2 separate regions of the Homo sapiens genome follow, and region 1 is linked to region 2. The links come from fine-mapping of genetic effects on gene expression. A gene starts in region 2. The other region holds a variant in brackets. All regions are shown on one strand. Distances are between the middles of the regions.

Region 1 (15,727 bases), 80 kb before region 2:
TTCAACTCACTTCTATTGCCTAAATCCAAATAATGCAAAATAGAAAGTGACTACCAGGACACTGGATCATCATTTAACAAGCAACTTAAGTTTAATAAGCAACTTAAGCACTTTAATTAGCTTTCTGTTGTGTTCCATAAAGTCCCTGTCCTGTTTCTAATTACTTCCTTTCCTATACCCTGCAGCAAACCCTTAGAAAGTTTTTCCAACCAGATTCAACCAGATCTGTGTAAGAGACTGTGTTTTGTGGTACTACATATGGGTCACATAGTTTGTGAAATAACTCACTACGAAATGATTATTTCTTCCCCCTTTCATTAAGCTCTATTAATCCAGATTGGAAAAAAGGTTCATGTTGACACTCTTCTGCCTAATTAACTTGTTTGAACTGTATTCAGCTCCATAGTGCTGATGTATGATTTATCAGAAAGCCTCTAAGCTAAGTTATAAATGTAATGTTTTCAAATCTGCCTCAAGTACAATCACTCTAATGGTAAATACCAAATTATGTTCCATTTGGGATACAAACCAAGAACATAAAAAGTAAGAATAAGAATTCTTAGCTGTGTTTAGGCTGGGTGCGGTGGATCACGCCTGTAATCCCAGCACTTTGGGAGGCCAAGGCGGGCAGATCACGAGGTCAGGAGTTCAAGACCAGCCTGGCCAACATGGTGAAACCCCATCTCTACTAAAAATACAAAAATTAGCCGGGCATGGTGGTGGGCGCCTGTAATCCTAGCTGCTCCAGAGGCTAAGGCAGGAGAATTGATTGAACCTGGGAGGCAGAGGTTGCAGTGAGCTGAGATTGTGCTACAGCACTCCAGCCTGGGCAACACAGTGAAACTCCATCTCAGAAAAAAAATAAATAAATAAAGAATTCTTAGCTGTGTTTTCCATTTGGCAAAACAATACAAATGACTAAGCAAGTATGTCCACAAGATTGTAGCTAGGGTCTTTCCCCTTTCTCTGGAAAGAAAGATTAATACTCAGAATGCATTTTTACATCAATTTTTATAAGTTGATATCAAATTATTGTGAGATTTGATGTTTTACTGCTTTGTTTTGTATTTTTAAGGAGGTTGTTTTTAATTTTTTTAATGGCACTTAGCAGGTCTCTAAATGAAGTGTGACAGATGTTTTCACCAATTCACAGTATTTAGTGGCTGAGGGTGAGACACACAACTGTGATTCTAACAAGAATATGACACTGGAGAGGATATCTATGAGATGACTGGCAGACTCCACACCAATGATCCTGACAGGTCAGTATTTTACTGGGAACTCACAAGACTAAGCCCCTCAAGGAAAAGGCCCACATCTAAGTTATTGTGTGTCTCTATGCTTAGCACAGCTCTTATTCCTCAGTAAGCACCTCATGCATGTTGAGCAACCAGGACCAAATTCCAGTTTTTATATTTACTGTCCAACACATACTGAAGGCCTCTTGAGTGAAAAGCTCTATTTGAGTCATGGTGAGTAAATAAAAAAGGAAATGTCCTTGGTCACAAGCAAATTACAATCTGATGGCACAGAAAAGAACAACACAAGAGAATATTTCGCACTACTAGAGAAATACATTGGCTTTCTTAATAACAGTTTAAAATTTTTGAATGATTCTTTTGTAGATTTTAAGGCACTGTTGTATACAATTCTTTTTAATGTTCCCAAGAAACTATGAAGAAAGTCTAATATTATTGAATCCATGGAACATATTGATTCCAGAGCTGGAATAAGAATTTGCATGCTTTTTTCTTTCAGTGCTTCAGCTGCTTTTTTTGGATAATGCTTGGTTGATTACTGCAAGTTCTGCTGGTTTAAAACAGTCAAGACGTACATTCTATTCACATGATCACAGATATTAAGATCTCATTGTTCTTTAATTTTATATATGTTCAAGTTTAAATAACTCTTCTACTCTTTGACAAAATGTTTATTAGAGATTTGGGGTTGGGGGACATATGAGAGGGATTGCAGGAATGCTTTCAGACTACCTTCCAAATGACTCTTTACTCTAAAAGCTCTCCATTACCCACCAAACTAAGTCACTTAGCATCTATCTATTATCAAAATAAGTCACCTATTTTAGACCAAGGGATGGACCTTGATTCTTAGTAGAAGATATTTGACCACTGGATCTCAATCAATAAATCATCAAAACCATTTTTTCAACTTCTCACTTTCAAATTGTTGTTTTGATAATAATCACCTTTTTCAAAAATTATCAAAAATGATAATTTTTGGTGTGATCATCCATGTTTCCCTACATTGACTCCAAAAAATAGTATATTGCAGTGGTTCTCAACATGAATTCAGGCACCAGATCAGCTGAGTTTGAATCCTGTGCCATCGCTTATAAACTATGTAACTGGGCAAGTTTCCTAACCTCTGTGGGCCTTCCTTTCTTCATCTATAAAATAAAGATAACAATAATACCAACTTCATAGAACTGTGGTGAGGATTAAGCAAATTACTATATCTAAAGTATTTGAAATAAAACTTGGCACAGAACAAATCCTTTCTATATTTTTGTTGTCATTAGTAATTATATATTTCTAAAGTACGTGGCAGTCATATTGTATAAAGACTTCACAAAAATTTTGAGATCAATCAATAACAAGTTCAGCCTCATTACCTGCACCAAGTACCACAGATAGATTTAAGTTCCCACTACAAAAACAAGATCTGCAAAATTTCATATAAGGATGAAACTCTAATACAGACCTTTTGCTCTTAAACATAACCATTTACCACATCTTCAATTTTCTACTTTCCCTTCAAGTCTGAATATATGTCACATATATTTTAAGATTTAATTCTAACTCCCTTAAAATATAATCATCAAGAAATACAATTGGAGAAGTATACCAATCACACTTCTACAATTGTCCTTCAAAAATTTTATTACATTAACCTTCTTTCTTTTTGTTCCTGTGAAGACTTCACATGAATATAGATCTGGGGAAATTAATACAGTTCACCCCTATTGGTAGTTCTTATTAATTTCTGTTAACTAAATGTATGCAGCAATTTTTATTGGAAAATGTCTTTTCCTTTATTTTTCCACTTATGCTAACTGTGTTCTGGGAGAAGTGGCAACATTTCTTTTCAGAATCCTTTTCTTTTTTTAGGTTTGGGTTGAATCAAATGATGAAAGGAACTAAATAATACCACAGATGATACAGATGGCTTGCACCAGTGTGGCAATAGTTTAACTAGTAACTCTACAATTGCTGGACAATCTTTAATTTTTTTGTGATGACATTATTATTTTAAAGAAAAGTCAAACAAATACTTGGTTCTTTAAGATTTTCACAGCAGCACTTTATATATGCCCTATAAATTTTTATATAATTTATAATAAAATATGTGATATACTTTCTTTTCTAGATATGTTACTCAATCTGATATCAGAAAGCTTCAGCATGACTTAATTTTTGAAGTCAAAGCTTATGGGAAATAGCAGCAATTTCCAGTGACCTGATAATACAAAAGAAAACAGCATAAATATGTGTCTTGGAGCTAAGTGGGTGCTAGTGTAGGCCTTGTAAGTTAAAAGCAACATTTTATAATCTTGGCAAGATGTAATGGGTAGTCAAAGTAATGAAGCTAACCCAGGCATAATGATTAATCTCTGTGTGAGTCACGACCCTGGCAGCTGCATTCTAAATGAACTGCAATCTATATAATGCATTCTCAGGAAGACCAGACAACAAGAAGTTGCATTAGTCCACAGATGCAGATGGTAAGACTGCATGTAGAAGCATACTCAGCTCTGGCCTATAAGAGCAGAGGTCTAGGTTGAGCAATATTCATAAAAGGATAGTGAAGTTTCATGGATATTTACTGGCTCCAGTTTATCAAAACGAAGTGTGGCATTAACCCTTATCTGATTCAGCTAACAGCTGGAATATTTAATGATGTCTCCATGGGAAAGGTAACAGAGTGGGATCTTGTAAGATTGGTAGGAGCATAAAAGCCATTCTGGATAAGAGATACAGCATAAACAAAGCTATCACAGTGAGAATTCATAAGGTGTATTTGAGGCAAATTGACCACCTCTGCTAAGTGAAAGAATAAAATTGATGTTGAGAATGGTAAAAGACAAAAATGTCAAGTTTAGCCCATAAGTAAAACAATTTAGCAATCCTCCTTTAGAAAGGCTGGCAAGGCCTGTTGTAACTAAACAATGATAGGATGATTGGCATTATTATTTGGAGGAGGCTAGATATTGGCAAAGAACCTCATTGTTCTGGCAGACAGTTTTCAGAGTACACAAATAGATAATCTGGAGAATGGATCAGGAAACTTACAAGAGGGAATATTTTTCAGGTAGAAAAAATGGTAAGATGGGCTTCTTTATAACGACTAGACAATCTGCTTTGCAACAAAGACTCAAAGTTAGTACAGTGTCATGGAATGGGTTCTGCACTGGATGACAGGGGACATGGAAATTAGTCCTGGCACTGCCAACACCTGGCTCAGGACCGATTTCCGTGGACTGCAGTTATCCATAAAAGAAAGATGTTGGGCCAGATGATTCCTGAGGACTCATCTTTGTACAACACTTACACATGACACTTTAAAACATGCCTATGCTGATGGTCAGAACCTCACTGCAGTCAGGAGCCATCATTCTGACAAATGCCCTTGAAAAATGCTCTCATTGTCTATCTATGTTTATACACTTTTATTTTCTAAGCACATATATGACTGCAAAAATAACCCCCAGTCTGAGTGTTCCAGTCTCATATCCAGCAAGGGAAGATGCATATGATGATGGTAACTAAGGACTATATATGTATTAACTCAATCCTTCCCATGGTACAGATAAAGAAACTGAGGCATAGAGAGATTATATAATTTGCCTGAAGTTGCACAGCTAATAAGTGACTGAGCTGGGATTAGAAGATAAGCTGTGGGGCTTACGGTATGCAGTCTTACCCTCTCTGCAAGTCTTGCCTCTCTAAACATTGTGGAGCTGTGCCAGGGCTGGTGTGAGAACTCAAGATAATGTCTTGGATAAAACATCCTTTTTAAGGGAACTGGTGGTAAGAGGCCTCATTTCCAATGAGTGCTTGTGGCCAATGTGTTACAAGTTTCCCCCAAAAAGTTGTTCAAGGCCATATCCTTGATAGCAATTTGCTTGCATATGTGAGGTCTGACTTCCATTTAGAACCATATTGTCTCCAGTCCCACTAGCCTGTAGAGATTTTCCCTTTGGACCTCTTCAGATATTAACGGCCCATGTCAGCAGAAACACTTTAGCCTTTTATTTCCCACTCTGTCCCCTTCCTCAATATTTGTCCCAGTCAAATTTAGCTTGGGGTGGGAGAGAGTGAAAAAGTGTATGCAGCTAGTCTGCCTTCTGAAATCAAACCTGACACATCTGCTTTCTGCATACTTGAAAAGCCAATAACCCTTTGGTTTCCTGAACATTTCACCTTGAAGATCTGGGAAAGAAGAATCAAGAGTGACTCTTCAGGGATCATAATCCTGACCAAAGGCCCCTCCCCAAAATATTAATTCATTCTCTCTAATGCTTGCATGACAGTCTAAGGTCACTCCTAAAACATGTCAGCTGCTCTTCAAGCTGATGGAGGTATGTGTCATTAGAGACTCTTGTTAAAAGCCCCAAGTACTTCTCACTCTGACCAGGGTGTCAGAGGTAAAAAGTCCATGAGGGTTTTATCTGCTGATCTAGCCAAGCCTTCCACAGCCACACAACCTCCAGATGGCAAGTTGTCTACCTTTAAGTCACTCTTAGAAGATCTTCAAATGCTTATTGCAAAGATGACATACTTTCCTTGCAGCTCATTTTACTACATTAAAAACGTTAAACATAAGTGTCTCTTGAGGTGCTTTTTCTCCCTTCAAAAATTATTTCTCTGAATTAAAATGTGTTTATAGAATTTCAGACAAGAATTAGGCAATCCCTTCTTTTTCACCTGCCAGTGGATGTCTGAGTGCAGACAGTCTTTCTGAGAGCAGGAGGTCCCCAGGGTTACTAGTGTAATTCTTTTTACTCCGGGGTGCTCAAGCACAGAATTGCTGACAATCAATTTGCTTTCACATCCTGGCATTAAACTCACTGTATATAAAAGTATCACAAGTATTTTCAATATAATTCTAAGTAGCGGTGATTTAAAAGGCTTTTTATTGTAGTGAAAAAAATTACAAGGCATAGTAAAAGCTGTACAGCCTATTTGACTGAATCCAATCAAACACATGTAAGATACTCCATAACCTCAAAATGGGTAAAAATGACTTAAAAATTAAGAAGGGCAATTGATAGGAGTCTTTTTTATATATGGCAGATGAAGCAATATACCTAAACAATATTTTGACCTTCTGGTTTCTAAAAATATGGAATGAATCATAATTTAACTTAGTGCTATAGGAAAGCAGGGACCTTTCAAAGATATAGCTCTAGCTATAAAACTATAGGTATTGACAACATCGTCGCCTAAGTATACAGCTATTTTTCGAGGCAAAACCAAAAGACTTCTAACAAAATATATGTTATTAGTTGTCAGGAGTACAGATGATGTCTACTGTTGCTGTTTGATTAGAAGGCAGGAAGCATGACTTAGACATCTACAACCACTGCTATTCAAAACAGGCACCATTAATATCCAGGTACACACAATACCCTTGAACCTGAACATAAGTATAACATAAATCTAAAAATATTATTATAACTGTCATGCAGTACCTGACACATAGTAGGCCCTCAATAAATATTTTTTGAATGAATGAATGAAGGAATAAATAATGAACAATATCATAGGCAGTCTGCTTTTCTATACAATTTTAAAAGAGTTATTTTCACTTTTGTCTTTAAGAGAAATGAGTAAAGCAAATTAGAAAATTGAATTACAAACTGTGGCTTTATAGCTGTTTGATATACAGACTACAAAACTATCTCTTCTGACTTGGTTCTCAACCACTGGTTCCAAGTCTTCCAGGTGTTTATGCAAAGGCAGGTCTCTCCTCCCACCACCATCAAATGGCATGGTACTGAATCCCACAAGAGCTAATGGAAATAAGACTGAGTTTGTTATTTTATTAACTTAAGAGGTAAAAGAAATACAGTTGCCAGATAAAATGCAGGAAGCCCAATTAGACTGAACGACAGATAAACCATGAATAATATTTTAGTATAAGTCTGTCCTAAATATTGTATGAGACATATTTATACTAAAAATTACTTATGGTTTATCTGAAAGTCTATGTTAATTTGGTACTATGTATTTTTATTTG[T/C]GAAATCTGGCAACCCCAGAAGGAAAGCAAATGTTCTGACTAAACACCAGTTGTTTCCATACATCCAGACTCTGGTAGGATAGGTGAACCTTTGAGTAAGAAGCAATGGCACAATTATCCTGATCCATTATTCAGTGATGGCCAACTTTTCGTACTTCACTAAAATGATATTTTTAAAGACCTTTATCTTGCAGCCATGCTACAAGTTGAATAACGCTTCTAAAGACACTGATAGCATTACATGTAGACAGTGAAAGATTATGAAAAGTGAAGAAAGCAAAGACAGAAAATATGTCAAAAGGCAGAATAAACATTTTTTACATTAACAGTCCCTTTTAAGAGGATATTGGTAGCTTATATGTTTCTATAAACTTATATTCAGATAGATCAAAGATAAAAATGACCTCTCAAAAAGTCTTGAATTTTGATATAATGTCAACTGTGTTATTATACTGTGAAAGAAATTTAGTGTTTATGAAAGGTGGCAGATTGATTGATTGATTATTAATATGTATTACGTACCAGTAAGAAGCTAGAGGCTATTCAAACATGCAGGCCAGGTCTCCATGGCCTAGGAAGGAAGCAGCCTATCTTGGAGTGGTGGGTTACAAGGTCTTAAAAGGTCAGGATGACATATGTTGTTGCCGAGCAGTGAGTTGAGATATTTGTTCAAATGAGATCTGACAATCCACAAAAGATAGCTCGATAGAAAATCCTTAAAACTAAGTTTATCATCTAAAAACTAAAATTGGAACTTTTCCTGCTATTTCAACAAAGGGAGGCATTATGTATATATTCATATATATACACATACACACACATATATATGTATAGCTCACAAATATTCTATATATGTGTATATATACACACGCATCTACGTACATATATATGTATATATATTCTTCTCCCTTCCCTTTGACTGTGTTAATAATCTAGATTTGGCTGGGCGCGGTGGCTCACGCCTGTAATCCCAGCACTCTGGGAGGCCGAGGTGGGCAGATCATGAGGTCCGGAGATGGAGATCATCCTGGCTAACACGGTGAAACCCCATCTCTACTAAAAATACAAAAAAATTAGCCGGGCGTAGTGGCGGGCGCCTGTAGTCTCAGCTAGTCGGGAGGCTGAGGCAGGAGAATGGCGTGAACCCAGGAGGCGGAGCTTGCAGTGAGGCGAGATTGCGCCACTGCACTCCAGCCTGGGCGACAGAGCAAGACTCCGTCTCTGAAAGGCTGCAGAAATACTGTTTTCACAGTTTGGAACTCTACTGGGAAAAAAGGGCCTTATTTTGAGGCCTGGATCAAGCTCTAGTGTTGGTATTGTCAGGAAGCACTTTAACCATGTCTGCTAAGGCCTGAAACTGTGAACACAGGGGAACTCACTCATCTTGGTGGGGCTTTGCTTGATAGTTGGACATCAAGGGGGCCCTTGAAATAGAACTATTATGCTCAGAAAACAGACATATATATATATATATATATATATATATATATTTACACATATATATTTCATAAAGTTTTCGTAATAACACTGTATGATCGGCATTATTTTTTTGTATTACCAATAATAAACTGATAGGATTAAGAGAATTGAAATAGTTGCCCAAGATGACAGAACCAAAACTTGGTGAATCCAAGATTCTAATTCAGGCCTATCTGACTCATGCTGCACTATAATACTTCTAAATCTGGAACATCTCTTTCACATTAAACAACGTATCAGAATCTTGAACTAGTCAAAGGAAAAGCTTTATTCAAAGGGAAGGCAAACAAGATAATTGATTGCTTCTATTTTCAATGAGGGCATTTTCTTAGATTAATTATAAAATGGTGATTCCAAGGCAAATAAAAAGAGTTTCTATCATGAAACTCTTTCAGGTAACTCTTGGGGTATGGCATTTTCCAAAATAAATTATTAGAAACACAAAACCTGAAGTTACATTACCCATTTAACACTAAAATTAAAAGCAGAAAGCTAATTAGGAAAAATAGACTCTGTTACCTTTATTTTCAAGGATTAGAATTCTCTTAAAAGTTACAGCTAAATAAAAAGAAACCATAAAATAGAAACTTTAGATCACAGCACAAAATAAACTTCAAATCAGATAGTAACAGGCTGTAAAAGCGTGGCTTCTAGGGTCATATAACCCAGATTAAAATCACAACCCCACCTCTTACTAGTGATGTGATCTTTGCCCCTCTGAGCCACAGTCTCCTCGTCTAGAAAATAAATACGATAATAGAACCTATCTCATAGGGTTGTCATGAAGATTAAATGTAATACTCCATGTAACGTACTGGGCATACAGCCTGGCAAATAGCAAGCAGTCAACAAATATTAGCTCTTATTTTTATCATCATTACAACCTTTTATTTAAAATGGATATGCTGACGTGAAATGAGGGGTTTGCATTTATACCTACATGTTTCAAAGCTAAAGACTCCTGGACACCAAAAACCCCAAATAGTTTTCTCTAAATAGATATTAAAATGTTCCTGGCAATAGCTGCTTTTAAATAACTCATTTTCCGAGGCTGAAGCACAGAGTTCAAAATCCCAGGCTAAGCCCATTTATACTGCCCTGTTGTAAGATGCTGCACACAAAAGTAATTATTTGGCTTGCAGACCCTTTGTCACCCGAAAGCTCCCATAGCCACACAATTAAGTTTAGGCCACTCGGGGTTTAGCATTCTTTTTCTGAAATGGAGTCCACATGCATTACTCTGTGTGTGTGTGTGTGTGTGTGTGTGTGTGTGTGTATGTGTTTCTGGATGAATGATACAATCTACAGAGGTAGAGGAAACATTACAATGCTTAAGACTGGGTACTTCAACATCCAATTAGAGTTGGGTGAGTTGTGCGGCAGCCCCAAAGGCCAGATGCTAAAGTGACCTGGTGCAGCCCAGCACAGGCCATCACCTATCCCTCCTGCATGGAAAGCAGCCTCTAGGGATTCCACTGAGCCACAAAGCTGAAGACCCAGGCATGCTGCATTTTTTTCCTCCTAAAGAAATTTACATGCTATTTTTCTACCCTGTCCCTGAGCTGGGATATTGAGGTTAAAATGTACCTACTGAGTAGGTAATGCATTTGGTATTAAGGATCCATCATATGCGTATGTCTTCTGAGCGTAATGGTTCCTTTGGAGCTATTATAGGTATGCCGTGAATAGATATTAGAAATAATACACAAAGAGTGACTGAAGGAGATCCCATATTAACTACTGTCAGACTTTAAACATTATTCTAAAATAAGTTTTTAATTCCTAGGGTTTAATACCTCTATACTTTGTAAACTGAGCACTTTTCAAAGAGAGCTCCAAATTCCTACAGAGCTGTCTTTAAGTGAGCTTTGATCTTTGCAGAGCACCTATCTTGTGTTTCTATAATTGCTGTGGTTTAACAAGGCTCCCTAGCATGTGAAGGGGGGCAAATCCTTTTATTAAGGCTATAAACCTAACTGACCATAGTGACGGAATGTGCAGCTTGGTGGTAGCCCTTAGCTCCCCAGGAAAGAAAAAAAAAATTGAAACCAGGGAGTCTTCATGTTAAAACAAAATGAAATATTTATTAAACATGTTTCTGGTGTCCCAGGTGGTAAGAGGCTGCCCCGTGGTCCGCTGAAAGGTTTGATCTTTGTTAAGTATTGTGAATGCTGATTTCAATAATGGGGTGAAAGCTGAGGAAGTTATGGCTGAAATTTTGGCTAAAGATGACAGCTCTAGGTTTCAAGTTGCACAAAGCAGTCTGAGGGATTAAACCAACAAAGCCTGCTCAAAAGTATTGAGTTTCCAAAAGTGTAATCTTCCTATCAGTGATTCACACTCCTAGGATGGGGAGGATTCCTCATTTTTTACTTTGACTTTGCCATATTAATCTTACTTAACAAATACATGTGGTGATTTATATCATGTTTAATTAACTGATTGAGGGCGCCAGTGGTAAAAATGGCATCGCATTAAGCTCTGTCCGTATGGCAAATTCGAATCACATCCTTAGCCTTGCAAGAACAAAATATCCCGAGAGTCACTGATGACAGGATGTAGGAATTGAAATCAGGTCCCTCCTGTTGTTTGAGAATCTAGGGAGGGTGCCTGCCATATGCCCATCACTTCCAGCGGGGGAAATGACAGGATAAAAGAAAGGAAGGCTCTAGTTCTTCCAATATGTTCAAATCTCAGATGAAAATGATTGTGCAGCAGTGCTGTACAGAGGCCAAGATTCACATGAAAGTACATCTCAAACTTTGCAGAGAGCTTAATGAGAGGGTTTTGTGGTGTTTTGATATGTGGGGTTTTCTTTTGTTTTGTTTTCTGAAATGGCTGCTCAGGGTTTTTGAGAACTGAGAGGCGAAAAAGCTGTCGTTTAGAGTTAAATATAATAAGCAGGATTTTTTTAATAAAAGAGGGAATTATTATTTAATAAAATATAAGTGCACTATGATTCCATAGAAATCAAATTAGGTTTGAATACTAAAACCACACGTTGGGATACTGGTTTTAAAATTAACATCTTTGGAAATTGGAGTTGTCTAATTTTTCCCCTCAAAAATCTATGGTGATTATTTATGACATCTAAAGAAAAAGTATAAATTGATTACTGATAATAATTTTGAAATTTTAAAATGCATTTTAAATTGCATGACAACATAATAAAAGTATGAAAAGAGGGTAAAAAATCCATTTCAATCTTCAATTTGATGATTAACACTTTTGTGCATCCTCTTTTAGTGTTTTGTTTGCATGTGTTAAAATTATTATAATCATGCTACACCTTCATCTTGTATCCTTTTTTAACTTAGTATTTTATCCCATATTTCTCATACTGCTTTATACCAATTTTATTGACTGCATAATATTTCATCAAATGAATGTTGTCATCTTTTCCTAACCAAGCTTCCACTGCTAGATATTAAAATGCCTTCCAATGTTTGCTATTATAAACAATGTTATAAAGAAAATTTTTATATACATGGCTTTTTCCACATTTTGAATTATTTCCCTGGAGAGATTTCCTATACCTGTTCAGGTTGCCATACTGTTTAGGTTTCTTAAAAGATTGTATAGAAGTAAAGACATTTTTCTTCCAAGGAAAAGTAGAAAGTAAAACATTCTATAATGGTGTCATTATACAGGAAAAAAAAAAAATCTTACTTGAAATTAACATGCAATTTAAGTGATGACTTCACTCCTATAGTAAGTATTGGCGACATGAGAAAAACATTTAATTTTTACTCTAAATTAATTTGTTCTCTAAATGTTGTTCTCTAAATTTAATTTGTTCTCTAAATGTTGTGTTCTTCTTTAAAATAAGCATATGGTGACAATGAAATAAATTCAGAATTTTCTATTTTGTTTTACTCCTCACTTATTGTTTTGATTTAGAAAAAAAGTCCTTTCAAGTATAATTTAAGTTTTGAAATTTTTAACAGTTTCCTGGAGGATATTACAAGTGACTATTAAGCCAGCATACAGGTCACTTTTTAAAATGATCATTATTTTGGTTAAATCTGAAGTATGGTCCTCATAATTAATAATCCTAGATGTTTTCATGGCTTCAATTCAGAATATGATGAATTGGGTAAGTTAGGCAATATATTTTAACTAAAACCACTTTGGATTTTGACAAGGAATTCAAACTTTTCAACTGTGCTGTGTTGCTGCATAAGCAGCCTGTAAAAAGAATAATCACCTCAATTTTTTCAACTTCCTGGAATCATTCAAAACAGAGTAGTTAAGGATTGCTTCATTTGGAAGTAATAAGTTCCAAAACGGTCTGCCGCAGTATAGTTTAATTACTGGTCTCAATTCTCAACCTTCTAGATTTTCTTAACTATCCTTTTTTTGTTTTCAAACAAAAAATGTACAAACTTAAAATTCTATTGGCAGCCTAGTTTATCAAAAAAAGTTAGCTGCTTTATTTAACTTAGTCTATGATTTTATGAAATGCCATCAAATTCAAGTCAAGGGTATATTAGGGATCAAATAATTTTGGAAGCCAAAAGTGCATTTCCCTAGATGGTTTCTTCCAGCCGATGTTATTATTAGTCTGAGATCATGTAACAGCTTTTGTTTTCCAAATCTGTTCCTTTCAGTGAAGTCTATTTCTTTGCATAGTTTAAAAACAAAGGATAAACATTCCTTATGGGGCACTGGAAGGAGAAGCAATTCATGTGAATTTGATAAAACATAATGTACTGGACTGACAGTAAAAAGGCTTTGCTTGTTTGATTGTTGACTGGTTTTGTCTTTAAATAATGGTCTTCTTTTGGCATTTAATGTATATTTGGTCACAATAAACATAATTTATGAATATTTTAACACATGCATACTCAGTGGGGTGGATTATCATACTGATATAAATAGAATTAATGAGCAGTCAACCCGCCACATGCCACGACATATGACGGGGCAGCCAGTGCACAGAAATAATCCTCATAGTTTCATAATAAAGCTTTTCTCTTAGTTCAACTTTTTAAAACTACTTACAGTCTTATGTCCCCTTTCTGTTGGAGTATGGTTCACCAACCTGTGAAACAAGATTAAGATTTTACTACAAGAATCTATTTCTTTGGCATTCAAAAAAACAATTTTCTTGCTTTCTCTAAAACAAAATAAATATATTTGAACAAACTAACTCTACTAGGCCAAATTTCAGGGAATAGGTTATAGACAGACAAGACATATGTCTACTAGAAAAAAATTGTTATATTCTTTTCTTTTCTTTTTATGACAATAACATGATTATGCTCAATTGCTGCTACCAGATCTTTACAAGAACAAAAACTTTCTAAATAGTTCTACATTCTAAAACAGATCCGATGGGCATATCGCCTGGATAAAATTATTCTGGAAAAAAAAATCTTCTTAGCCAGTTATCTGCTCTCCTTGAACACAAAGCAACAATCTGTTAAGCGTGCCTAATAAGATTTTTTTTAAAGGAAAGAACTCAGTAGTATAAAGCCACCTCTTCAAATGGTAGGTATTGGGGGGGAGACATGGGCATGCAAAATCTTCAATTTAGCCATGCTTTATTCAACAAATAATTATTTTTGTGAAGAGACAAATTGAAATTTAAGATTAACCTTCATTTGCCTTATTTCCACAGTTTGATTACAGGCAAAAGTGGGAAAAAATAAAATTAGCATGTGCACTGCATTGTCCAGATGATCTGGCAGGAGGAGAGCCTTGGCAGAGATATACTATGACTTTTTACAAATGCAGATGGCAGTGTTGCAGCCTTTATTCCTCTTATCTTTCATTTTCAAAGGGAACACTCGAAGCTTTTTGCCACCACCCTCCTCTACTCCTATCCTCACATGTAAAAACACTGTATCCCCAAATCAAAGCTCTTTCCTAAAACAGGCAAGCCCCAGGATGCATCAGGGAAGGGACAGACTGTGACACCATGCTCCTGGTCATCTGTGAGAGAAGTGCACTGTGCTATGTGGGCCAGGGCCTGGTGAACTTGCCCAGAGTGACTCCCTTGGGGAATCCAGCCCTTTCACCAGCAAAGAAAATGGGCACCACCTAGTGCTTTTTCAACGCAAAGGCTGTTTGTGCTCATGTGGACAAGAGTGGGCATGCGTTGGCTGACCTTTACAAAGGAAAAAAAAAAAAGGAGTCAGGTGGCTTTAACCCCTATGCCAACTGAAAGAAGAAGCAAGTGACAATCTTAAGACAAAGGAATTCAGTGCTTCCAAATTATAGATTTCTTTGGTTTTTTTTTTTTTATAATTATTGGTCTGTTCATGAGAAATAACATCTTTACTTACCAAGACACTAATTTCCTCTGTATCACCTTTTTGCCTCCTCATGTCCTCTGAGGTTAATTTGTAAGAATTTCTAAGAATTTTCATTTGGTCCAAAGTGACATAGCAGAACCAGCGCTGGCCCACCCCCACCCCCAAAATCTATTCTAACAAGCAGTCTCTCTGGAGTTCTCCTAACACAACAAATAGCTTTTATGAAAAATGATGTGTAGCACAAAATCTTTTGCAGTGCAATAAGATCAAGTTAACCACTCATGCCTCTAGGAAAAAGCCTAGGAAGTTTTATCTGATTGGCAAAATGGACCCAGATATGAGTTCAAGGATTGAGTACAGTTTGATGAAATTTCATAGCAATGAAGTCTGATTATCTGAATGATTGCTTAAGCCTTTTAAAACATAACTCGAGGAAGCACTAGATTTTTCATTGGGAAAACAGATGGTCTTGTAGGGAATCGTAGAACCACCATCTCATGCTGTTTACTTTTTCTGTAATACTTTGCCTAGAATTACTCTCACCACTATTGCTTTTTAAAAATAATAATGATTTCTTCATTGCTAAAAGGTAGATCTTTCTGCAATAAAATTAGAAATCTTAGTGGAGGGCAAGGTGAAGGGCAGAAATGGGAAAAATGAGTAACCTGCTATACCTAACTGGATTAACAAGGACCTGTAACATATCCAGGAACTAACTGGCTGGCTCT
Region 2 (15,727 bases):
ACTTATTTCCTATTCCAACATTGCCTGGAGCAGTCAACAGGTCAGCCTGTGTGTGTATGTGTGGGTGTGTGTGTGTGTATGTGTGTGTGTACAATATACGTGTTATGTTGTTCGTTTTCCTAGATTTTTCATTCCTCTCTTGCTAATAGTTATTTTAATTCTTTAAGCATTAATACAATCTGGGAACTAATTCTAATGGAGATGTACTTTAAACACAAGGGATGGCTTGTAATGATATTAAATTGAGATCTTACAAGCTCATAGAGATTAAATAATATTATGGTCAATTCACAAAGTAGATATTGCCATAAAAAATGTTAAATTAACTACTGTGCCATAGTACCTCTAATTCTTTTGCTATTGATGTACTCGTACTAAGCCTTTCTTTCTTTCTTTCTTTCCTTTTTCCTTTCTCTTTCTTTCTTTTCTCTCTCTCTCTCTCTCTCTCTCTCTCTCTTCTTTTTTGATTCAGGGTCTTGCTCTGTTGCCCAGGCTGTAGGCTACAGCATAATGGCATAATTAGAGCTCACTGCAACCTTGAACTCCTGGGCTCAAGGGATCCTCCCGCCTTAGCCTCCTGAGTAGGTAGGACTACAGGCATGCACTACCATATCCAGCTAATTTTTTTTTTTTTTTTTTTTTACTTTTTTTGGTAGAGACGCATCTCACTATGTTGCCCAGGCTGGTCTCTGACTTCTGGTCTCAAGCAATCTTCCTGCCTCAACATCCCAAAGTGCTGGGATTACAGGCTACAGATATGATTTTAATGAAAAATCAAGGATTGGTTATATTCTAAACCATTTGCCAAGAGCACAGTTTACTTTCATGTCTTGGCATTCATAAGAAAACAAAAACTATATATGAAGTTATTTACAGTCTTCCACTCTTATTAACAGCTTCTTTCTAAAGCATGTATTTACTTTTATTAATATTAGGATAATTTTTTATAATTTTTCCTAAACCTGACCTCAAAATGTTTTGGAACATAAGGCAGAAAGGAATAGAATAGGGCTTTAACAAACAATGGAATAATGAGCATTGATTGCAAACCTCCGTAACAGAGACTTGCATAATCTTGTAAATAAGATTTGCATACCTCCAGTAATTATTAAGAAACATAAGATCATATAATCAACTGCTAAATTATATAGAGCAGACAGAAGGTAAGGTAAAAGTTCAGAGAAAAGAGGCATTAAACATTGCGGGCCAAAATTATTAGAGACAGTCTCTGCAGATGGTCACCTGTGGGACTTTCTTGTGATTGTGAATGGCCTGGGATCTTGTTACCATGCAGATCCTGCTTCAGCAGGTCTGGGGCCTAAGTTCTGCATTTCTAATGAGCTCCCAGGTGATATCCATGTTGCTCTTCCATATACTCCTACACTTTGAACAGCAACAACTATTCAAAGACCGGGAGGGTTTGGAAATGTGAAGAGTAGCAAGTAAAGGAACCTTCCTCTTGATGATTTAGAAGCCATAACAGGCTTATAAAAATAGTTCAGCAGAATAAATATTCCTGTGTTTTTCATACATATTTGCCAATGGAATAACCCCCAGACCCAGTGTTGCCTCACACTGTCATCTACATTATTAATACTAGACCAAAGCCAGGGTCCATTACTTTCATGTGAAATGAACCAACCATTTTTTCCAGTAGTCTAAAAGACAGGAAAAGCCTTGCTGAAATGAAAATTTTCTTAGGCTGGGAACTGAATTGAAATGAGTAGTGTTAGTTTTGTTTACGGGTCTTGCAATTTAACTAATTTCTTCCCCATCTATTCTTTTATATCCTAATTGCTCAAAAATGTTATTTTAAACTTTAATATGTTTTAAATGCTGTAATTTCCTTTCTAAACAATCAAAAGCCATTTTCAGCTTGGGCCAGAATATTCTGCATAAATAACCATTCACCAAAAAACTATTTGCATCTAGGACATTCCTAGCATTCCTAGGCCTGCACTTGGCTAGGGTAACCTAAATACTATTAAGAATTGTAAAAGTTTTGAGATTTTACTTTTACTGCAAGATAAAGAAATTTGTAATCGTCTCAGACACAGTTTAGGAGTGTTTTATGTTAAAATTATGGTGGCAGAGTGAATGATCTGGATCCTGCTGCTTGAAGAAGAGTCAAGGACAAGCTTTAAAATCAGGCCATCTTTCTGGGATTCATAAAAGCAAGAACACATAAATGAGGACTAAATTCCATTATGGCCAGTGGAAAGAAAGTTATTAACCCTGAATAAGACATTTTGGGACTGCTGAGGGTTTTTTAAAATATTCTTGAGGTTTCACTTAAAGCAGTAGAGGAAAATGTCTTTCAAATTACCTCTATGACACCCACAGCCATTATTCCTGAGTAGATATAGGCCAGATGGGGGTTGGTATCTGAAATGATCAGTGGGGTTGGATTCAATTAGTGCTACTAAGTGCTGCTTGCAGAAAGCAGTGTGCAATAGTATGCCCCACATCAGAACTGGGTAACCTGCTTCCCTTCATCCTTCTACTGACATTCACAGACTGAACTCCCAAGGGTGACTTACTTAGAAAGGGACCCTTTCTATAGTAGAGCTGCTTTTCCCAGCAACCTCCAATTTCTCAGCCCTTGTAAACTGCCCCAAGCATTTATAGGCTTCATTTTTAAGCCTATAACCTAAAGTATAGGTCTCTCTAGGTCCAGGTCTGAGCTCAACCACTGAATTGAGAGGTTTAAAATTGATGAAAGCCTGGAAAACATAGGTAAGATGAGGAACTGTCAAAGAAACTGAAGTTACTTAAACTAGAGAAAGGAGAATGAGCAGTAACAGAATCAGTGGTGTGCTGTAGCCAGTTCATACTAGCTTGTAAGAGCTGATTATTAAATCCCGAGTAATTTTGCAAGCTTCTTGTCGAACACAGCCATGAATCAAAAGTAAATATGTCAACTTACCTATTACAAACAAAAGTAATACAAAGGGGCACGAGGAAACTTCTGGGGGTGATGAATAGGTTCATTATCTTGATCGTAGTGAAGATTCCAGGGAGTATATTTGGTACTGTAGAACGATTGCCAAAAAACATTGCAACTTTATTTATCCCATTATGAGCTTTTAGTACAATTTCTCTTAAGTTTATCCTTAGTAATTAAATCCTTATGTCTCACCTAGTGTCTATTCTTAAATCTATCATTTGCATGCTTCATATATAATATTTTATGCATATTTTTCTGGTTTTAAAAGCAATACATCTTCATTGTAGATAATTTGGAAGAAAAAAAAACAAAACAAGCATTAGTTAAATCCCACTACCTAGAGATAATGTATAGTCAATATTTGGAATATTTCATTTGAAATGTTTGGGAGTATATGCACATACTCATGTGCATATGAATAGTAGATACGACATGCATAACTTGCTTTTCTTCCATACCACGGTATAAGTATTTTATTTTGTTATACAAATTTTTTACTTTTTTATATTAGCCGTTAATATATTAAAAATTAAAATGTTACATTTTTAAAGCTAGCCAGTTTTTTAGCCCCATATATGCATAAAAATACATTTTTTATTTGGCCTTTAGGAAGACTTAAAAGACAGCGACATAAACTAGAGATTCTCAGACATTAAAATGCGTCAAAATCACCTGGAGGGCTTATAAAAGCTCAGATTTCTAAACCCACACTGTTTCTTACCCAGTATGGGGCCCAAGAATATGGATTTCTAACAAGTTCCCAGGTGATACTAATGCTACTAGTTTGAGAATTATTGGTTTAAACAAGTAAGGGATTGATGAATATCAAAGGGTAAAGGATTGATGGCATAGAGCTAGGCCACCCAGGCCAGGTACTGTGGTTGCATGATACCTTGGGAACCTCAGCTCCTTGAATTCTTCTGTTCTACTACCCTTAGAGAGTGTGGCTTTAGGCCTCATAGTCCCATCATGACCTCTGCAGTTCCTTGTTTCAATCAGGAAGAAAGATTTTTTCCAGAAGCTCCACCTCGGGACTTCTGCTTATGGGTTTTAGCTTAAAACTTTGTAAAGTGGACCCCTTTACCTGTAAGAAAGGCTTACAACTATAGTTGATTCATGGTCAGTTGGCTGGTTTTAAAGCTAGCTATATTCCACCCTGAGCAAAATTAGATATGACAGACATCCTTATCTGCTTCATAATTTTAATGAGGGATTTTATATTTCATAGGTCAATTTTTTTTCTAGGAAGTAGGATACAAATAACTTTTAAAAAAGGAACAATCTGAGCTGGAAGGGGATTTATAGAAAGTGTTAGAAATTTGGAATCTCTATTTTGGAGAAGAGAAGCATGAGCTGCTCAGTGACATTGTCATGTGCCATTGAAAGCTCAGCTGATGACTATAGGTTCATGCTAGTGCAGTAAAGAATCTTTACAATATAACAGCCCAGGAGCTGAGAAAACAAATAGCATGATTGATTCAAAGCTGGAGCCTAGTAAGAAAAGTATATTGGTAGGTTCAGAGGGTAAGAAAATCGTAGAAACTGATAGAGCAAAGGTTGAAATGTCATCCCCAGGAGTATGGGGCTACAGAGAAATAAAAATACATTCCTTATTTCTCTAACTGTTAGGTCTTTATGCAATAATTGAACCAAAAAAACTTAAGAAAAAGTGATTTCAGATGACAGCTAGTCTCCAGTATAATTTGTCTCAGGTCCAAAGGAGTCACTAAAATATTTTAACTTCCAGCTCCATATTTAAATGGGATTTTGTTTCATTCTATTTTGAACTTTTAAAAATAATATTCTTTTAATTGAGAAACAATAAGACTACAACCCTTGACCCAATTCTGGTGTTTGTTCTATGTTTTAGTTCAGGTTTCTTTTTAGATGTAAGAAATAGAGACCAACTGGCATTAGCTAGCCCCTACCTAACAAAGGAAGTTTACTGTAAAGGCTCACATTGAAAGAAAAAAGGACTGGTATCACAGTAAAATCTGGTCTTACGGACATTGAAGCTGAATGGTGGTTGGGTTTCAAGGTATCCAGAGTCAACAGATGTTGATTCCAGTGGTCCCCAGTCTGCATAATTCTGCTACTTCCTTCAGTTCCACTTTGAGCAAGCTTCTTCGTAGTTTCTGCCCACCATGGTTTTGCACAGGGCCCTCTAGCAAATTCTTAGTTCAAATCTCCAAGAAAGAATAGGATTGTCTCAATGCATCTTTTTGTGTCAGTCAGAGGTGGAGAAGCTGGCTATGGACTGGTTCCTAAAATCAGGTGCCCATGTCTAGTCCAGTCATTTTTACCCGATTGGGCCCGTCTGGCCAGACATGGTCACCTAGGCAGCAGAGGCTCCTGATGGAGCAGCTAGGCATAATAGGTGGTTCTAGCTAATACAATTGCAGCTATGTCAGGAATAAGGAAAAATGGGCCCAGCACTTACCCAGGTACATTTTGGGGTGGAAACATTGTAACAAAACTGTTAAAAACAAACAAAAAAACAAAAACCCTCTAATCATTGTGTTGCTTGTTCAGATTCTGCCAAATGCACTCTCACAGATTTGGAGCTGGAGCTCTGTATATAAAACACAAACATAATTCACATAATTATGGATTTTTTTTTCTTGAAAGGAAGACTGCTCACAGTTAGCCATTGATCAGTAGCATTGACCCATCGTTGTAATGTAAGTGAGGAGGCAATCACTGGCAGAGAAGCTCCTTAGTAACTCAGACCTTCAGTGTCACAATTTTTGCCTTAATAATTATTGTCAAGTTTATAAATAATCCCTGTAAGTGAAACAAGCAAGAGTTTCACTTTGGTTTATTACAGTTTTTAGTTGCAGTAAACCTTACTTATATGTATAAATTATTCAAATGCCTAGAAATGCTGAGCTATGAATCATATTGCATTCAAACATCTGTAAGACTTTTGTTTCACATTAAAAACATTTTATTAAGGAGTTAATTGTGTTATACTTATTTCAGGAGCTATAGTCAGGAAGTAAATTTAATTTGAAGTACACTTAGAAATGTAACAGATTATGTAAAGTAAGTAATTTTCAAGTTAAAATTTACTATAATTTCCTACCCCATAATGATTACAGGTTACAGCCATCCTAGGTGTGTTAAGACAACACGTCTGTACTTTAGGCTCAAGTTGTTCATTTCAGCAATGGTTACTTGGGCACTATAGAATTTGGAGTTATGGTAAAGTATTCACTGTTATTTTATTTGCAGCATTAATATGCTTTAAAGGATTACTACATGGTTATTTCTCTTATAAACATCACTAAATTCTTTAAACTTCCTTAATTACTTTCTAAATGTGAGTTGGATATTTATTTGGTAAATTAAGTTCTTTTTACATTTTTTTTAATGCTTCTAGGATTTTTGGTCATTTGAGAGGTAGGAGAGATCTCTGAGAGAAATAGTAATATTCCTGCTAATTTATACAAGTGAAGGTTCAAGTAATTAATTTGAATTTTAAAAGATGTAATATCACTTGTATTCCAGTCTTATCCGGTTATAAATAAATAAAACTAAACAATGGTTTAAATACATGTAGGTAAAAAACAATCATGGAAAGAAAAAGTATTAGTAGAAGGTCAAACACTGAGGAAAAATAATGGAATTATCTATTCACAACGGTTTATATGGTTTATATAACTGCTAGCCCTGAATCTCAAATTTAGTTCTAGGATTTCTGTCAGCAAAATTAAAGAGTAAAAACAGAATAGTTTACAAGATAGAAGAAATATATCAGCTCCTCAGTAGGAACTAAGATCTTTGCCTTACATTAACATTTTAAACATTTTAATTGATAAATATAACATGTGTGTAGAAAATGAACAAAATGTACAGCTCAGTAGATTACCACAAAGCAAATACTTTTGTAATTAACAACTAGAACATGAAAATAAACAAAGCCAATAAATACATGAAATTCTCTCCTCCCTCTGTCCACTTCTAATCACTGTCCCTTCCCCCTCCCGAAGGTAACTATTATCCTGACCTTTATGGTAATCATTCCTAGATTTTTCTTTATCATTTTAACACTAAAGCTTACATCCCTATACAATATAGTAGAACTTTGCCTGATGGAATTTATATGGGATTTATTTAACATTATGGAGGAGGGTTGGGAGGTCTAGCTTTTTTTTGCTCAACTTTATGTTTGTCAGATTTATCCATGTTGTCGCACAGAGTTGTAGTTTTCATTTTCATTGCTATTTTGTTGTGTGAATATAGTTCAATATATTTATCATTCTACTGTTGGAAAGCATTTGGTCCACTTACAGTATGAAGTAATTTTGAATTGAATTTTACTGCTAAAAGCATTTTTCTTCTTCTTTGTTTTTTCTTTTTTTTTTCTGTTGCCCAGGCTGGAATGCAGTGGCACAATCATGACTCACAGCAAGTCAACTTCTGGGCTCAAGTGATTCTCCTTCCTAGTAGCTGGGACTACAGCCATGCGCCAAAATGCCCAGCTAATTTTTTGTATTTTTTGTAGAGATGGGTTTTCGCCATGTTGCCCAGGCTGGTCTCAAACTCCTGGGCTCAAGCAGTCCACCTGCCTCGGCTTCTCAAAGTGCTAGGATTACAGGCATAAGCCACTGCATCCCACCAAAGCATTTTTATAAACTGTATCTTGATGAACAAGTCCATGCATTTAAACAGAGAATATTCCTCAGAGTGGGATTGCTAGATCAAAAACTGGTTTCCAAAGTGGTTGTGCCAAATTATACTCTCACCAGCAGTACGTGACAGCTTCCATTGGTTTACTGCCTCAATACCTATATTGTCAGTCTTTTTAACTTTAGCCATTCTGATATGGTTTTCATTTGCATTTTCCTGATTAAAAATGAATCTGATTTTTCCATAAGTTTGTTGATAATATTTTCTCTTGTGAAGATCCTGCTCAAGGGTCTCATCCACTTTTGGTTTTGACAGTCAATCATTTCCTTAGTGATTTGTATCAGTTCTTCATATAACCTATATATAGGCCCTTAAATATGTCTTATAAATATTTTCTCCCAATTTGTGCCTTGCCCTTCCTTCTCTTTAATGTTGTTTTTGAATGGACAGAAGTTCTCAAATTATCAATTTTGTGTAGTCACATTTATAATTATGCCTGGTGACCTTTGTTTTATTTCAAATGCGTTCTGTCATGAAGACAATTTATACCTTCTAAAATGTTATTTTATCTTCTACAATTAAATTTATAATGAATATATATGCACCTGATTTGGGGATAAAGTTTGAGGTAAAGGTCATGTTTCTTTCTTTTTCTACATGAACATCAAATAGACCAAGCACTATTTAATTTCAAAAGTCCTTTTACCATTGCTCAGAAGGGTCACCTTTGTCTTAAATCGTGTTCATTTATATGGAAGTCTGTTTCTGTGCTATCCTGTTTCTTTCATCTTTGTCTATCCTGACACCATCATAACACTGTCTTAATTACCATATAAGTCTTGATACCTGGTAGATATCAACCCTCATTATTCTTCGAGAGATCTTCAAGAGTTTATTGATATTTTTGGTCCCTTGCATTTTCATATAAATTTTAGAAAAAACTTACCATGTTACACACACACAGTCACACACTGGGCCTTCATATGTATTTATGTTGAATCTATAGGTCAGTTTGGAAATAGCTGACATTGTAACAATATTGAGTCTCACAACCCATGAACATAGTGTAACCATTTATTTAGGTCTTCGTTTTCTTTCAAAAAAAAAATTTTTTTTTTTTTTGAGACGGAGTCTTGCTCTGTTGCCCAGGCTGGAGTGCAGTGGCGCAATCTCGGCTCACTGCAACCTCCACCTCCCAGGTTCAAGCAATTCTCTGCCTCAGCTCCCAAGTAGCTGGGATTACAGGCACCCGCCACCACGCCTGGCTAATTTTTGTATGTATGTATGTATGTATGTATTTACTTATTTTACACGAAGTCCCCCTCTGTCGCCCAGGCTGGAATGCAGATGCGCGATCTCTGCTCACTGCAAGTGCAGTGGCGCAATCTCGGCTCATTGCAACCTCCGCCTCCCAGGTTCAAGCAATTCTCCTGCCTTGGCCTCCCCAGTAGCCGGGACTACAGGCACGCACCACCATGCCCGGCTAATTTTTTGTATTTTTAGTAGAGACGGGGTTTCACCATGCTGGTCAGGCTGGTCTTGAACTCCTGACCTCGTGATCCGCCTGCCTCGGCCTCCCAAAGTGCTGAGATTACAGGCTTGAGCCATGGCGCCCGGCCTCAAAAATGTTTTATAGTTCTCTTTGTAGGAAGGACAATCTTTAACTTATTCCTAGTTACTTGCTATCTCATGCACTATTATAAATAGTATCTCTTTAAAACTTCAATTTTATATCTGTTGCTAATCTATTGAAACACATTGATCTTTGAATATTGACTTTGTATCCAGCAACTCTTAAATTAATTTAGTAATTTTTTCTACTTTCTTTTGGATTTTTCTATGCACATAGCATCTATGAAAAATTAACTGTATTTCCTCTTCTTGAGAAATTCGAAGACTCTCAATAATCTGAATTTGACTAACGTGCAATTTTCGTTGTAAATTCAATAAAAAGTTGCTAGTGTATTCAATCTTTCCAACTCACAAGCTCCCACTCTCAGTTTACGCGGACCTGACTACTACCCGAACAACCCCCACCAGTCTGGAGGATTTTGAGCCTAGACACTCCTCCAGAGCAGGCTCCTGTCCCGGCTGCGGAAGTGCGCGCGCCCTCGGCACCTTAACAGTTCCGCCCCTCTCCCGGACCCAGCCAATCAGCGGCCGCCTCTTGCGCGCGCCCCACCGACCAAAATGGCGGCTGCCGTTGGTGCGGGGTGCGGTTTGTAGTGCTGTTGCCCTACTCATCCCTTTGCAAAATGTGAAAGAAGAAGCGGCTGGTGGAGGCGGGCCATAGGCAATGAGTCGGCGAAGGAAACATGATGACAGCCCTAGCCCGAAGAAAACGCCGCACAAAACAGTGGCGGCGGAGGAATGCGGCTCGGTGGTCGAGCCAGGGAGGAGGCGGCTGAGATCGGCCCGCGGTTCGTGGCCCTGCGGGGCTAGAGAGGGGCCTCCCGGGCCAGTGCGGCAGCGAGAGCAGCCTCCGACCGCCGCCCTGTGCAGTAAAAGTAACCCCGAGGGTGAGACGTCGGCAGCGCGGCCTGCCTTGGCTTCGGCGCCGCATCCCCACATCCCAGCTTGCAACAGGGAAATCTGGGGTGGGGGTGGAGTCTGGAGCGTGTATTCTGTCTCTGGGATTCACCCCTCGAGAGTCCAAAAATAATCCTATACCACTCCCCGATGGGCTTTTGTCCCCGAACTTCAGCACTACCCCGTTAGGTTTGACCATCCATTTGCCTCCGCCACAGGAATAGGTAATGTGGTTTACCTGTTTGCGGGAGGGCGGCTGCTTTCCAGGCTGCTCCTCCAGTCAGCAGCAGTGGTGGAGTGAGAAGAAACAGCTGATAGGCCCGCTAACCTCAGTTTTTGCCCGGAGAAGTTATTTCTCTTTAAACCCTTTTTTTCCCTGTGACCTGCTTTAGAGAAGAGTTCATAGGAAAAGTTAAAGTTTGTCTCAAAGCCTGGTAGATGTCTCACCTCATTGTGAATAAACCGGAAGTTCCTGTGTGTAACATCCCTCCAAATAAGATACTAAGGATCTCTTTCGTCTCGATTAGTTTTAGGTGTTACTTTTTAAAAGACTTCTAGTAAATCTTAGTTGGAACTGAAACTCATACAAAAGCCTTTATTCTGGAGCATGTTCTTGAAATAGTGCTTTTTTTTTTTTTTTTTTTTTTATACCTTACGTGTCTTTTTTCTTTTGGGAAAGAATCTCGCCCTGTCGCCCAGGCTGCAGTGCAGTAGCACAATCTCGGCTCACTGCAACCTCCGCCTCCCGGGTTCAAGCGATTCTCCTGCCTCAGCCTCCCAAGTAGCTGGGACTACAGGCGTGTGCCACCTCGCCCGGCTAATTTTTTGTATTTTTGGTAGAGACAGGGGTTTCACCGTGTTAGCCAGGATGGTCTCGATTTCCTGACCTCGTGATCCACCCGCCTCGGCCTCCCAAAGTGCTGGGATTACAGCCACCGCGCCCGGCCACCTTACATGTCTTTAATAATACTCCTATAAAGCAATTTGGGAATGAACAAAAATCTTTATAAAAATTTGAAAGTGATTCTAGACAAAAATTCCCAAGCATTGGATCACTAATGGTTTTTGAAGAATGGCAATTAATGTAGATTAGATAGAGTTGGTGAAAGGGGGCTAAACATATTTAGGTTTCTGTTGGGTTACTTTGGATTTTTGAATGTACCTATAAATTACAGATGGTTCCCCAAAGCCTCCAAGACTCAATGGTAATAAATAGAATGACTTAGGTTATACAGTATTGTATTATGCATTCATAAAGCTTCTGGATTATCTAGAAGTGTTTGCTATTTACAATGTGAAGTTTGCGAAGTGCCGCGTGGATTTTTATGTGAAACAAGCATTTCTGTTACGGTTCAGGTAATTATCTCTGGGAAAAAAAATTATCTTGGACTATAAAAGTTAGTCTCAGCTATTTGACCTTGGGGTCTTACGAAGTAAGGTAATGCTTTAAAATGCAACAATTGTTATTTTACTCATATTTTATATAGAAAGGTATGAAACACCAAAGAGAGCGCTGAAAATGGACTCACTGTCATCTTCCTTCAGTTCTCCTAATGATCCAGATGGACAGAATGATATCTTTTGGGATCAGAATTCTCCATTGACAAAGCAGTTAGGTAATTAATTATTAACATTTTTTATGTGAGTAAATATTTGATAAATGATTCAGATTTAACTAGAATTCTAGTCAGATAATAGCATCGGGAACCTCTGAGAATGTTATATGATTTTATCTGTATAAGTATGTGATGTAAACACATAATCCTCTAAGCTGCACTAAATAAAATTACTTTCTAAGAAGTGACAGCTGTTTTTTAAAATGGAGGGTTTTTTGTTTAAAATTTATAGAAATGTCTTTGTTTCTTTAGGTAAAGGAAGAAAAAAACAGATTTACACCACAGATAGTGATGAGATTTCACATATTGTTAATCGTATTGCTCCTCAGGTAAATATCACTAGTTTTACAGTTTGTTTTAAAACAGTGAAGAATGTGCCACTAAGTTTTTGTAGTTTCTTTAAATGAAAAGTATTGTCTATTATAATTCTTTTTTCCAAAAATAAGGCAGCAAAGATTACTGTTTTGCCTTTTCTACTTTTGAAATACATATTTTGAAAAAAGGAATATAATATAAAATACAAGATATTTTCTTAAGTATATATCTTGTTTTAATTTTTTAGAGTAATTTTTGACTAGGGCATTGTGTTTATCTGTAATGTTGTGCTTAACAACATACGACATCATTTTTCAAGTTGCTAAAATAATAGAATAAGGCAGTGAAAAAAGTTTATACTTCTATGATTGTTTTGTGATTGGTACTTCCTGTCTGTAACATTTCCCCATTGAAACTATTAATACTCATTTCCTTATAAGATTATCAAGAAACACTTACAAAAGTGGAGAGCACTGAATTCAAATTTAGTCCTCATTCAACCTCCTATGCTGTGTGACCCAGTGCAAGTTATTTAAACTCCCACCACTTCAGTTCATTCAGCCATGAACTAGAATTATTGTGTTGCTCTTGCTGTCTTCATTGGATCATTATGAGAATTAAACTAGATAAAAATTCTTTGTAAACTATAGAGTGCTATAATTGTAAGGTTACGTTAAGGTTGTTACTGTAATAGAACCATCTCCAAAGCTTTTTTTTCTTTTCTTGGACAGGCATGGTGACTCATTCCTGTAATCTCAGCATTTTGGGAGGAAGGCTGAGGCAGGAAGATTGCTTGAGGCCAGGAGTTTAAGACCCTGTCTCTTAAAAAAAATTTTTTTTTGAGTGTTTCGTTTCTTTTTTTCATTTCTGTTCTTTTATTGTTTGAGTGAAATAGAAATATGTTCAAGTCAATCATTTGACACAAAGCAATCCAGTAACTCTAATATTATAATTACTAAGAAGCAAAGGCTCAATACGTGAAACTGTTCTGAACTTCTTTACTTTTTGTTCTCTTTTTCTTATTTAACATTTAAATCCAGAGAACATTTTTGCTTAGTGTCTTCTCTGAAGGAAGTATGCCATTTTTCCTTAACCTGCGCTTGAATAGTTACTATATGTTGACCATAAACAATAGATGGCACTGGCCCAAAACATGGTTTGAAGAATTACTGTCACCCAGGTGGAAGAGACAGAAAATGAAGTTTTTCTTAGCAGCTATAAAATATCCAAAATTACACCTAGCACAGTCAAAACAACTCTGTTGCTACTAGCTCTACATTCCATTTTTAGCATGTCATAGAAATTCATTTTACTTACAGTTAATTAGTTAAATAGCATTTATGCCATAATAGTACTTACTCTATAAGTTAACAATAGATCTTCATTAATTGTGGGTTTCACATGAAAGAAGCATAATAAAATGTGTTTGGGTGGGCCAGTCTAAATAGTGATAAAAAGATAGTTGTGAATAAATTATTGGACTCTTTACCTAAGTGGGCTAGAAATAATAGCTCATATAAAGAAATGACAACAGTACGCAAGTGGTAACTTGTATAAAAGAAAAAAATATAGTGAAATTAGTAGCTTTAAAATGTTACCCTCTTAAACTGAGTACTTTTAAAGCATATAAATCTTTAGCAGTTTCAAGGTCTGTTTGAAAGCTTGTCATGTTCTCAGAATGACAAATACTTATATTGTTTATTTTTAGGTGAGTCATTCTCAAATCATTTAGTTTTAACATTTTCAGAGATAGCATTTTTTTAAATATGCGCTTTTATTTTGGTTGGACAGTCAGTTCACTTTTTGCAGGGATACTTTTATACAATGTTGTTTATTTGAAGATGGTATGTATCTTCATTTATACAGCTTTGCACAGTATACTTTTTATAATGAAATGAAGTAATGCATTTAGATACCTTATACAGCACCTGGATTATGGTTGAAAATCAATAAATTATGTAATTATTCATGAAGAAATATGTAATAACATGTATAAATAGTATACAAACATACATAGGACCCATGTATATGTAAAGTTGGGTACATAAAGTCATAATTTAGTTCTCTGAAAATTGAATGAATTTAAAATTACTTTTGTAAATGGCAGAGTTCATAATTAAGACTATGATTGTCTTTAAATTCAAGATTGTTGAAATAAAAGGGAAAATATATTGAGTCTGAAAGTGAAATTACTGATTTTCTTGAGTATTTGCAAAGCTAAAGGCAACTAGGTTCAAGTTGACATTAAGAAAACTTTTTTGATTCATTGAGGATTTGAAGTACCAAACTGTAGGGATCTTTTCACCTAAATCTTCTAGTAAATAAATGTATACTGACACTGGTATGCCCAATATTGTGCTGGATGCTGAGTTATTCTAAGAAGAGTCCTTGCCTTTGAGTAGCCTATAATCTAGTAGTAAAATTATTTTTTAAATTGTGTGATATTTATGTTCATTCTAGGTACTATAAAATAGAGTGAAAATGGTTACTTGATTTGATTTGTTGGTTTGGTTTGCAATTAATGCCTAAAGCTCATTCTGTAATTTTTTTGTGTGATCAAGTGACTGAAAGGTACAGCAAAAGTATCCAGGTCTAAAATGCCTTTTTTCTGTATATTATCTGGGCTAAACTTTTCTGTTTTCTCTATTTTTTTATTCTTATTCCTGTCTCATTCTTAGCATCAGTTCTAACCTTGCTCTTATCTCTTAATTCATTCCTGATCTTAATTCTGAGTGTTCTTAATTTAGGTCAACATGGATTGTCCAACTTTAGATAAAGATTATAATAAGGATAAAGAAAATTTGGAGAAACAGATGATACAGAAAGAATTCCATATGTATCTCCTCTCAATTCTGATGATTTCTGCCACACAGTTTCTGACACTAATGTTTTTATAAGTATCTTAGGACAATTAAAATGTCAATTTTCTTTTGATAAAAACATGCTTCTGTTATTAAATGTACATTTGATAAATTTAATTCTTAAAACAATATTTTTTTAAAATAAGCAATTTGTAATTCTGAATGTTTTCATTCTCTGAAACATAAGTGGATCAATTATTGTAGCTTATTATTGCTATCTCCCAACTTCCTATTGTTTTTGAGTTTGGTAAGTGTTACCTCACCAGAATTTAGGAAATTAATTCAAAATCATTAGTTTTTATTGTCTTTTTTCTTTCTTTTGTTTTTTTGGAAGACGGGGGATGCTACACTGGTACTTTATACCTCTTTTTTTCCCTATCTGCCAAAGGATGAAAAACCAACAACAAATTCTATGCTGGACATGTGGATTGGTGAAACTGCTATTCCTTGTACTCCCAGTGTAGCAAAAGGAAAATCAAGAGCAAAAATCAGCTGCACAAAGTAAGTTAAGACTTTTCAGCTTTTCTGAAATTCAGTGAAGCAAATATTTTTTGATAATACTCCATTTTGGTTTTGTGAATATATCAAAATTTTTGTTAATAAAATTTCCACAGTTTTGATCTATCAAATTTTGGAGTTAAAATAATTATAACTGTTAAAATCTTAGAGCTTTAACATCAAAATATGTTAAATAACAGTTGGATATAATGTTTCAGAACATTTTTAGTTATTTTTTAATCTTGTTTAATAGGTTAAAAACACAAAGTCAAGAAGAAGAACTTATGAAACTGGCTAAACAATTTGATAAAAATATGGAAGAGCTAGAT

Which allele goes with the higher level. Alleles are on the strand shown, and positions count from the first base shown. SD is a standard deviation of normalised expression in the study named.
For the expression in lymphoblastoid cells of the gene that starts at base 9,760 in region 2, T is the high allele of the variant in region 1 and C is the other (small effect, 0.34 SD a copy in GTEx).

The links. PIP is the estimated chance that this variant, and not a neighbour inherited with it, causes the effect.
Region 1: its variant is fine-mapped to the expression of ETAA1 in lymphoblastoid cells (GTEx, PIP above 0.99).

The regions. Positions count from the first base shown.
Region 1 is chr2:67,308,062-67,323,788 of GRCh38, forward strand. No RefSeq gene overlaps it. Among named protein-coding and RNA genes, the nearest start is that of ETAA1, 81 kb to the right of the region's middle. The variant T/C (reference allele first, on the strand shown) is at 7,261.
Region 2 is chr2:67,387,574-67,403,300 of GRCh38, forward strand. It overlaps ETAA1 (ETAA1 activator of ATR kinase), which reads left to right and starts at 9,760. Exons shown (of 6, transcript NM_019002.4): 1 at 9,760-10,098; 2 at 11,596-11,724; 3 at 11,977-12,053; 4 at 15,289-15,401; 5 at 15,652-15,727. The coding sequence starts at 9,876.